Linked DNA regions of Homo sapiens: region 2 is linked to region 1. Evidence: fine-mapped expression QTL. A gene starts in region 1. The other region holds a variant in brackets. All regions are shown on one strand. Distances are between the middles of the regions.

Evidence for each region. PIP is the estimated chance that this variant, and not a neighbour inherited with it, causes the effect. A credible set is the group of variants that fine-mapping cannot tell apart.
Region 2: its variant is the best candidate, but not a certain one, in a credible set for the expression of GPIHBP1 in prefrontal cortex (CommonMind, PIP 0.66).

Annotation. Positions count from the first base shown.
Region 1 is chr8:143,210,520-143,215,890 of GRCh38, reverse strand. GPIHBP1 (glycosylphosphatidylinositol anchored high density lipoprotein binding protein 1) reads right to left here and starts at 2,673. Exons shown (of 4, transcript NM_178172.6): 1 at 2,572-2,673; 2 at 1,941-2,069; 3 at 765-878; 4 at 1-632. The coding sequence starts at 2,623. The coding sequence ends at 373.
Region 2 is chr8:143,178,191-143,183,561 of GRCh38, reverse strand. No RefSeq gene overlaps it. Among named protein-coding and RNA genes, the nearest start is that of LY6H, 21 kb to the right of the region's middle. The variant C/T (reference allele first, on the strand shown) is at 2,572.

The sequences.
Region 1 (5,371 bases):
ATGGCAGAAGTTAAGGGTGAGGACTGGGTGTGGGGGCCCCCAGGTGTGTGGTGGGTATCATCTCTGCCTGGCTGTGCTGATGGGGATCCCCAGCCCCCATGAGGGCTGCAGGTCCTGGGGCGTGGCAGCCGAGGTCTGGACCCAGCGCCCACGTGCGGCAGTCTTGCTGCTCACAGGTGGTGGAGAAAGGACACCAAGGACACAGCCGGGAACTGAGGAAGCAACCGGGCCGGGGGGCCTGCGCTGGCTGGATCGCCCAAGACACTCCAAATCCATTCTCCAAAGCTGGTGCAGGGGCAGGAGGGGAAGGTACCAGACAGAGTGCTGGCAGGGCCGGGGGTGAGCCGGGTGGGGGTGGGGAGGGGCCGTGGGTCAGGGTCTCCTGGCCCCCATTGCTCCAAGGCCGGCAAGGAGGTTGAGCAGGAGGGCTGCGCCCACAGTTTCGGAGCTGCCCCGGGGGCCGCCTGCCCCCTTGCCTGTTGGGTCCTGGACTCGGGAGCTTTGCCAGGGTGGGACATTGCACAGGCTGGACTGGCAGCAGGTCATGGTCACCTGGGTCCCCTCCACCGTCTTGGTGATGGGCTGGCAGCTGTCTGTGCACCACGTGGAGTGGGTGGTCAGGAGGCCTGACTCTGGGAAGGGGAGTGGGGAACAAGTGCTGAGGATGGGCGGGGTCTCTGAGGTGGCTCTGCAGGGCTCTGTTCCGGGCCCCTGGCTTTCCCGCCGCCTGGGGGTGCATGTGCTGCGGCCCCACGCCCACTTACCGGTGTTCCCGTGGGCAATGAGGGTTGTGCAGGTCTGGCCATGTGAGCAGTTCTGCGTCAGGTTGCAGCGCTCGTCCCTGGGCAGGGACTTGCAGGTGTAGCACCGCAGCAGCACTGGGGACAAGGCGGGCTCAGGCCGAGGCCGGGCCCCCCAGGGTCTCCTCCCACGTCCCTGTCCACCTCCCCGTTCTCAGCTGTGCTCCCAAAGCCTAGCCTGGTGAGCCTCCAGCACCCACTGCTCAGATGGGCGGGCGACCCCTGACTTGGTCCTGTAAGCTGTGCTGTGTGCGTGAGCCTGTGTGTTTAGGGGGCAAGGGATTGCGGGTCAGGCAGGGCGAACTTCCCATCATCACTCACGTCCTGCGACAATGCTGCCCAGGCTCCTGCCGTGGTCACAGAAACCTGGAGGTGGGTCTGACTCAGTCCTGCCTCCAGGAGCACCAGGCCTGGCAGAGGAGGGCCTCACAGGGGACACCTCGTGGGTGTGTGGGGCAGGGCTCGTGCTGAGGGCAGGCTTGGGGCTCCTGGGAGGGGGGTGGGCTGTGTGTGGTGGGGCATGCTGGGGGCCCTGGCTAGGGAGGGGCTGTGTGTGGTGGGGCACGCTGTGGTCCCTGGCTAGGGAGGGGCCGGCCCTCGGGTTGGATGCGGCGATTTGCTCTGCTTTTCTCGGGATGGGAGAGAGCAGAGGGTGGCCCACGTGTAGGGGTGTGTCAGGTGGGCAGTGAGGGTGGGCTCTTCTTAGCCCTACTCTGCTCTGCTCTAAGCGGTTCCCTGGCTCCCCAGCCCGCAGCAGCCAATCCAGCCCTCCCCTGTACAGGACCGGCCCACCCTGCTGCTCTCTCTGCCCCACAAAACTGAACCCTACCCTGGGGCCTCTGTGCTTGTGTCTCCACCCTAGGCCCCCACTGAGCCCTTCTCTGCCTGGTGAACTCCTATTTAACCTCTACATCCTGGCACCACTGACCCTCCCAGCTGGTGGCTTCTTCCCCTGTTCCCTACTCTGGAAGGCAACTGAGTGTCATGGTGAGCAGCAGTGAGGGGTGTACTGAGTGTCCCCCACTCTGCTGGAGGCAAGCTCACAGCAGGACTGTGGCCTGCTGGCTTCCATCACACAGCCCCGCCCAGAATGCTCCAGGCAGATCAGGCAGCAGGGCTCTGGGGTTGGGGCGGCCATACCTCTGCTCCTGCCACCAGGGAGCCTGTTGGTCTCCTCCTCTTCCACCTCATCCTCATCTTCCTCGTCGTAGTCATCTGGCCCGTGGTCCTCGTCCTCTTCCTCTTCCTCCTGCTGTGTCTGCCCTCTCCCTGGCCGTGCAGGGATGCTTGTAAGCCTCAGCTACCCGGGTATGGAGGACACCTGCTCTGGGCAAGCATCGTGCCCCCAACTCCTTGGCCCTCCCCAGCCATCCTCGGGCCCCAGGGTGGCTGGGGAGGGCCCCTACCCTGAACACCCTACTCACCCTACTCACTGTCCTGCAGCCTACTCACCCTACTCACTGTCCTACTACCCTACTCACCCTACTCACTGTCCTGCAGCCGAGTGTGCCCTGGCATTGTAGTTACAACAGCAGCTGCTGTGGGCTGGCCCTTTATGGTAGCCCCTCCCCGCACCCCACATAAACAGGGGCGCAGATATTTGGGGACTCTCGGGGACCCAGGCCAGCTTCCATCCATGCTGCTCTGGGCTGGGGACTCCAGCCTCATCCCCTCCTTCTTCCTAAGCCCCTGCTGGGGGTCCCTGGAGGTCCCTGTGCTCCAGGACTGCTGTTGCTGCCCCCTCACCGCAGGGTTACCCTTTGCCCCGCACCTGGCCGCCCGAACAGCAAGAGGGCAAGCAGGACAGCCCCGAGCGCCTTCATCTCGCCGGACGCTGCTGTGTCCCTGACTCTGAGTCCTCCCGCAGGGCTCTGGAGCTGCGGTAAGTGGGATGAAGGGCATTGCCGTGGGCTTCCTAGTGGCCCCCACCAGCTCCAGCCTCAAACAATGGGCCTCACACTGGTCCCCAGCTCCAGGCGCCAGGCCAGGGACTGTTGTTTCCCTCCAGGACATCTGGGGCCAGAGGGGAAGGAGAAGTCATTGTGGTTGGCCTTGGAACGTCCTGTGCACCCGTGCCACGGCAGGTGGAAGGTGGTGCTGGCCCTCGCCTGGCTTGCCGCTCAGTGCCTCAGCCCTGCAGTGCAGGGCAGGGAGCCTCGCCCCGGAATGGGCCATGCCTGACACCCCTCAACCCCATGTCTGGGCTCCATAGTCACAGGACCTTGGGGTCACAGACCCTCTATTTGCTGGTCACTGGCCAAGCATCGTCATCCTAGAGTCAGCATCACACCCAGGCCCCTTTAAGAGCATTTAAGTAAAAACACAGTCAATGCCCTCAAGCTAAGGCTGCGTGCTCACCTCCTCCTCACCCACACTCAGCAATGCACTGCTAGGCCCAAGGCCTCCCGGCTGCCCCTCACTATCACCTCGGGTCTTTGCCCCTGCTGCTCCATCTGCAGTGCTGTTCCTGCTGGTGTCCGGTGGAGAGCTTTCTGGAGCTCTTGGGGGCCCGCCCCCTCGGTCTCTTGCTGGGAAAGCCATCAGCACCCACCTGCCTTCTGGCCTTGTGTGAGAGACGGGCTGCTCTGGGAGAGGCTTGGAAAGCCCAGGTCGCTCCCTGAGGCCACCCCCTCCTCTCAAGACCCCACCCAAGCCCTTGGGGGGTGCTGATGCAGAGTGCAGAGTCGAGGCTCTGAGCTGCCCCTCTCCCAAGGGCAGCAGAGGGGTGGGGCAGCGGCAGGGGCTGGACGTCCGGAGCCAGGGTCAAGCCTGAGCGTCTCTGTGTGCCTTGGTGCTTGGGCCAGGCACTTCACCTACTGAGGCCTCAGTTTCCCCGACTGTCAATGGGTGGGGTGGGGCATTTTCTGGCCGGCCACCTGTAACAGAGGTTGAGTTGGTTCTGGAGTGAGCTACCTGGGTTTAAGACCCGGTTCCTCCTTCCCCCGGCTGTGGGTTCTGGACTAGCCCCTTGGGTTCCCCAGGCCTCAGCTCCCTCATAGGGTGAGGTGACCATCAAGGGTCAGTACCTGCTGGGCTTAGGACAGCGCCTGAGGCTGGGAATACCTGTCTCTAATGTCCCAGCCACCGAGTCAACCATCCTTCCTTAATTCACCTGAACCTGTCATTCTTTCCACTCTACCGGCACCCACCCAGCATCTAGCCCTTCCCCAGCCAAGGCTGCAAGGTCACTTGCCAAGCCAGGGTCTCCCATAGTGGTGCCCACGCCACAGCCGGACACGCCCCGCCAGCCCCAAACTCTTCATACCTGATGCCTGTCCCCCCCAGCCCCGTCCCGCCCCGCCCCGCCCCGCCCTTCCCTGCCCCTCCGCGCGTGGCCCCACCCCCACCCGCCTCCCTGCGCCCTCTCGCCCTCGGCCCGCCTCCCCCACGCCCCGCCTCCCCCACTGCCCCGCCTCCCCCACTGCCCCGCCTCCCCCACTGCCCCGCCTCCCCCCACGCCCCGCCTCCCCCACTGCCCCGCCTCCCCCACTGCCCCGCCTCCCCCCACGCCCCGCCTCCCCCACTGCCCCGCCTCTCTCACGCCCCGCCTCCCCCCACGCCCCGCTTCCCTGGTGCCCCGCCTCCCCCACACCTGTCTACCCCATGCCCCGCCTCCCCCACTGCCCCTACTTCCCGTCGCCCCGCCTCCCCATCGCCCCGCCCCCATTCGCCCCTTCTCCCCAGCGTCCCACCTCCCTGTCGACCCGCCTCTCCTGTGCCCCGCCTCCCCCGTGCACCGCCTCCCGTCATCTTCACCCCTCCTCCCCCACGCCCCGCCTCCCTGTCGCCCCTCTTCCCTGGTGCCCCGCTTTCCTGCTGCCCTACCTCCCCCGCGCCCCGCCCCGGCTACCGCTACAGGCCCTTGAATCTAGTGCTGCAGGAGCTGCTCCTAGGAAGGGCGCTACTGGGATTCTCAAGGGGCCTCCACCTGCCGCCTCCCCTCCACAGGGGCCCAGGCCCTTGCACGTTGCCTCCCTCTGGGCCCAGCTCCTCTTCAGCCCAGGTGCAAACTGCCCAGCCCAGGCAAGTGCTTATTGCGAGAATCACCTAGGGACAATCAGAGCACATTTGATTCGCAGATTGAATTAAATTTAGTGCTCGCCACTGAGAGGCTGTTCCCTCTGTCCCGCCCCGGAAAGGCTAGTGGGTCTGGTCCAGCCCCTACAGAAGGTGCCACCTGGGATGGTGCGCAGGTGTGAAAGGGGACCCGCAGTGGCAGACACCTGGTTCCCCAGCACTGCCTACAGCCGGCAGGTAGGCGTGGTGGGCTCTGTATGTGGAGCCCACCCCCTCATCCCACCCAGGCACCACGCAGCCTCCCTCAAGCCCCCAGGGCAAGGTCATGACCTCTCAGACACTCCAGGGTGAAGATATGATGCCTAAGACCTTCAGGGCAGGGCTGTGGTCCCCCAGGGCCAGGGCTAAGGTCTGGTGGTCCTGATGGCAGCTGCATGGGTCATTTTCGAGCCTGCACCTGCGCCCCTGGGCTCAACCGCCTTTCCAGGCCCAGGCTTCCTCCCTGAGCCATGCGCACACCCCAGGGCACCGTTGAAGGGCAGCCCGGCCACCCC
Region 2 (5,371 bases), 32 kb after region 1:
CCTCAGGAGCCTTCCTCCACTGCCCACCCACAGGCCCCGCTGTGAGGCGAGGCTGAGCGTCACCTCCCACCCGGCCCTCTCAGCCAGCTCACTCAGCCTCTGGGTATGGCGGGGCTGCCAGTCCTTGCAGGAAGTCTGATCTCCGGAAGAACAGAAGACCACAGGGAGACCCAGACCAGACCCCCCAACACCTGCTCCCCACCACCGCCGCTCGGCCCCCAGGGCTCCCTCACAAGCTCGGCCCTCCCCACACCATTTCTCCTTGGAAGGGTCCTAATGCCCCAGACCTGGCACCTGCAGCGTCTGTCAGGGAGCCCCTGAGTCCAGCCCCCTCCTCCGCAGACACCGACTGAGCTCAGCTGCGTGCAGGCCGGTACTGAACACGCACACCCGGGGAGCCGGAGCTGGGGGCGGGGCGTGATGTCACAGGAGCAAACACAGAGCCTGGGGCCAGGAGGTGGGAGATGGGGAGGGGGCTCAGGGAACTAGGGACACTTCACTTCCTGGGAAGAAACCGCAGACTGCAGACCCAGGCCAAGGCTGTCCAGGCTCCCAGGCTCGACTGAGGCTGGAGAGGGAGGGCTGAGAAGGGGCAGGAACTTGAGGGTCTGGGGGCCCCCATAGCTCAGCGGGTGAACAGGAGCCCCCAGGGCAGTCCCTGAAATTTCACTAGCCACTCTTCCTCATCTGCAGAGGAGCCTTTGGCCTCAGAGTCTGCAGACCACACACACATGCACACACTCACACGCACACACTTGCTCACATGCACACACTTATGCAATGCATGTACACGCACACGTGCACACATGCACACACATGCACATGCATGGGCACACATGCACACATCCACACACACAGACATGCTCACATGCACACACACAGACACACACACACACACACACACCCTCACATGCACATGCATGCACACACAGGCACACACATACATGCACACCCAGACACACTCACATGCACACACACACACGCACGCATGTGCACACACATGCACACACAGAATGCTTACATGTGCATAGTGCACACATGCACACACGCACACATGCACACACAGACATGCTCACATGCACATACATGCACACACACGCACACACACAGACATGCTCCCTTTGGTAGTAGTGAGGTGGGGAGGTGACCAGTCCAAACATGTTACAGGGCCTGCAGCACTTCTGAGAAGAACATCAGAGGCCAAGGACGCCACACAAGGGGAAGAGCCTCAGTCCCCAGAGTGTCCCCAACCCACAGCATGTACACCTGCAGCAAGCTGTGCCCTGCACAGGAAGGGAGCCCTGTGTGGCTGATGCGAGTAGGAGGGGAGACACGCATGCTGAGGGCAACAGGAACAAAGGAGGAAAGGGGGAGACAGAGACACACACACACACAGACACACACACACAGAGACATACACACACAGAGAGAGACACACACAGACACAGACACACATGGAGACACAGAGACACACAAACACACAGACACACACAAAGAGAGAGACACACACACAGACATACACACACAGAGACACACACAAAGAGAGACACATACACAGAGAGACAGAGAGACACAGAGAGAGAGAGAGAGAAAGGGAGGGAGGGCAAAAGAAAAGAAGGAAGAAAGGAGGTCAAAAGACAAATGACACACTGGGAGGGAAGTGGAAGCGTACGAGCCAAAGGGCTGATTTCTGCGCATTTAAAAAGAGTTCCTAAAAATCTAGGGGAAAATTAGAAAAATTCAGAAAACATGAACAGTTTACAGAAAAATTCTTACAAATGTCTCTTTAACTGCACGAAAAGAGGCTCAACCACCTTCATAGTCAGAAAAACGCCAATTAAAATTGCACTGAGATGTCTTTTCTCACCCCTCATATTGGCAAAATCCAGCAGTCTCGGCGGGTCACCAGGCCTGCCCTGGGGTGAGGCTGTGAAGAAACGCCCGCGCAGGCACGGCTGCGGGAATGGAGAGGAATCTGTCAGTGCCCTGCAAGACCGTGTCTGGGTTAGCCTTCCACCCGCTCCCAGGATTCCATCCCAGAGGCGTAGCCCCGACACACAAAATGCCGCAGTGTGGAGCTTCTCGATGGGGCGCTATTTGAAATAGCAGGGGTTGGGAGCCTCCCGACTGCCCATCACTGCACGGCTGTCCCAGTGCACTGGTGCACATCCCCCAGGGGGACCACGCAGCTGCGGGAAAGAGTGAGCCCGGTCCCTAAGCACTGATAGGAAGCCTTCTCCAGGCTGCATGAATCCATGTGAAAGTCTAGGGAAGAACGGCGCCATGGGTATCCTTGGGGATCTGTGGATATCCATGGGGATCCGTGGGGAATCTGTGGGTATCCGTGGAGATCTGTGGAGATCTGCGGGGGATCTGTGGATATCCACGGAGATCTGTGGGGGAAAAAAATCTGTGGATATCCATGGAGATCCGTGGGGATCGGTGGGGGATCTGTGGGGATCCGTGGGGATCTGTGGGGATCTGTGGGTGTCTGTGGGTATCTGTGAGGATCCGTGGGGATCCGTGGGGATGCCACCTTTTGTGTAAGGGGAAGAATGTAAATACAAACAA[C/T]TCTTTTATATATTTGCAAAAAAGAAACAATGACAAGATTATAGGTGAGAGGAGAGAACAGGGTGGGGGTAGGGGGACAGGAAAAAAAGGGAGATTTCTCAGAATGCACCTTCTCAAAAAGTCAAAATCAAAGCCTTGGTTTTGTAATAGTGTGTATGTAGTTTTCTGCATGCAATAAAAATACTAAATAAAAATCCCCAGAAACCGAGAATAAATGGAAACAAAGGAACCTCAAACTGTATATCAAGTTGGTAAGTTAATTTTACAGAAAAGGCAATTATTCCAGCAGCCTCAGAACACTGCACTTTGAAGATACATCCTGGTGGGACACACTCCCAGGACAGAAGGAGCTGCAAAGAAGTCTTGTTCTTAGTTCATAACCTTCTTCTTTGTAATAATGCTAGCCTTTTTATTTTGAAACTATTATGTTATAGGATAAAGCGAATATGTGAATATTCTTAAAAACAAAGTTTTTCAGCATAAAAATGAAGAGATACAGTTTTAAAAAATCAAGTTAAATAAAAGCCCTGAAATCCTGGTTTTGAATTGGAAAGAGGGCAAACATGTGATTTGTTTCCTTTTTTAAAAAGGATACTCAGCCTTGGCAACATGGTGAGACACCATGTCTACGAAAAAACGCCAGTGTGGTGGCACACCTGTGGTTCCAGCTACCACTGCTGCTGCTGCTGCTGGTGGTGGTGATGGGGCAGGGGTTGCGGGAGCGGAGGTGGGAGAATCGCTTGAGCATGGGAAGTCAAGGCTACAGTGAACTGTGATTGTGCCATTGCACTCCAATTCGTGTGATAGAGGGAGACCCTGATTTAAAAAATAATAAAGAAAAGGATACTTACATCCTAACTTTGCTAACTGCAGAGACATAGAGGCAATGCAAACCCCATAGCAATGAGCACACCTGTATCTACATTATGAGATCTAAGTACCATCACCACTGAAAGAACAGAGCTGCAGACGACCTGAGGCAGGACAGTATGGAATTAGGGCAACCAAGGGTTAAGGCAGAAGCAAGGGAACAGCAGGTGCGGCCAGTTCTAGACAGGACGAGGCGGCATACAGGCCACATCCTCAGTCCTGTGATGACAAGACAGAAGTTTCCACCTCAGCCTCTGATTGACTGCAGGCCGAGTTTCCACCTCAGCCTCTGACTGACTGCAGGCCGAGTTTCCACCTCAGCCTCTGATTGACTGCAGGCCGAGTTTCCACCTCAGCCTCTGACTGGTCACACGCCAATCCTTCATATATTGTAACCCACTGGAGGCCTCTAAAGGGCACCTAGGGGTGTTACCAGATTCTTTCAGCTTCATAAGAACCCTAGAGAACACTGCAGTCGGGGCTCTTGAGCTGCTTGCTCGAGCCTCTCCTGCTCTGTGGAGTGCAATTTCGCTTCAGTGAATCTGCACTTTTCGTTGTTTTTTTTTTTTGATGCTTCGTTCTTTTATTGCTTTGTTTGTACGTTTTGTTTAATTCTTTGTACAAAGAGCCTAGACAGCATACAGCCAAGAGTTTCTATCTGGTAACATATTTTGGAGAGCCAGCCAGGAGGTAAGCCCTGTTGTCTGGGGTTTAGATTTCCTTTCCTTCTTCTTTTTTATCTTCTTTTGTCAAAGCCGCGATCTGCGGGCATGGGTTAGGCAGTTAAAAGCCAGTAGGGTGCCTGCCGCTTGAAGTCTCTAGTAACCGGATAACTCGGTCATGGAACAGGACACCTAGGTCCTGCCGAGAGCAAGACAAATCCGTGCAACAGTCGGGTTTGTGTATGTGCAGCAATAATGTCTTTGAGATGATTTAATTCTTCATCTTCTAATTTCTCCCCTCGCCTTGCTAATGCTTTGTCGGGACCAGGGATTGCTAAACTGTTGCATTTGAGCCCCCATCACCATCTCATGCCCCTTTTGTTTATGCACGGAAAGTGCAGAAAAGGACGAGCTTAGGGAAAACCCCACGTCTTGGTGGTTCCTGCTCAAACAGTATTTCTCCTGTTCAGACCGCAAAGTAAATTACCAGCCACAGGGATTCATATACCACCCTCTGGTGTCGCTGGCTACAAGAAATACCCCACCAGCCTTAATGTTATTAATATTAGGATTTTTGAGTTTCATCCTGGAACAAATGAAGAGCTGGAAGTAAAGGGCCTACCATAACCCTGTGAAGAATGCAGGAAGACATGGTCCATCTAAATTGGTGGGACGTGAAAAGCCAGGGATTATATCCAGGTACAAAGGGAATCACAGTGGGCCACTGGCTGTGGAGAGAAAACATCCAAAGCGGCACTGGTGCCCACCTGAGGTCAGAGACGCCTGACACTGTAAGAGTGGACCCTGAAGGGGGGGCCTTGGGATGCAAGGCTAAACCTGAGACTTCCCCAGGGGGACGCCCCAGGCGGAAATTTCGGGTCCACAGATAAGTCCTCCTTAGGGTCTCGTTTCTCTCCCAGACTGCTATGGGACCCACCCCATCTATTCCACCTGATTCCCTGCCTGGCTGCACCCTCAACCATTGAAATCAATTTGACCCTGACAATCTGAGAAGAAAATGCTTGAGTTTTTTATTTTAATACTACTTGGCCACAATATCAGCTAGACAGTCAGGTGCAATGGCCAGACCATTGAAGGCTACATCGTAATACTAACCTACAATTATACTTACTTTGCAAAAGGCAGGGTAAATGGTCAGAAATACCATACAGTGAAGCCTTTATGGCTTTGTATCAGAATGCTTCAATCTGTAAAGCTCCTAACACTGGCCCTCGGAAAGAAAGTCCTAAGACTGAGCCAGACCCTGG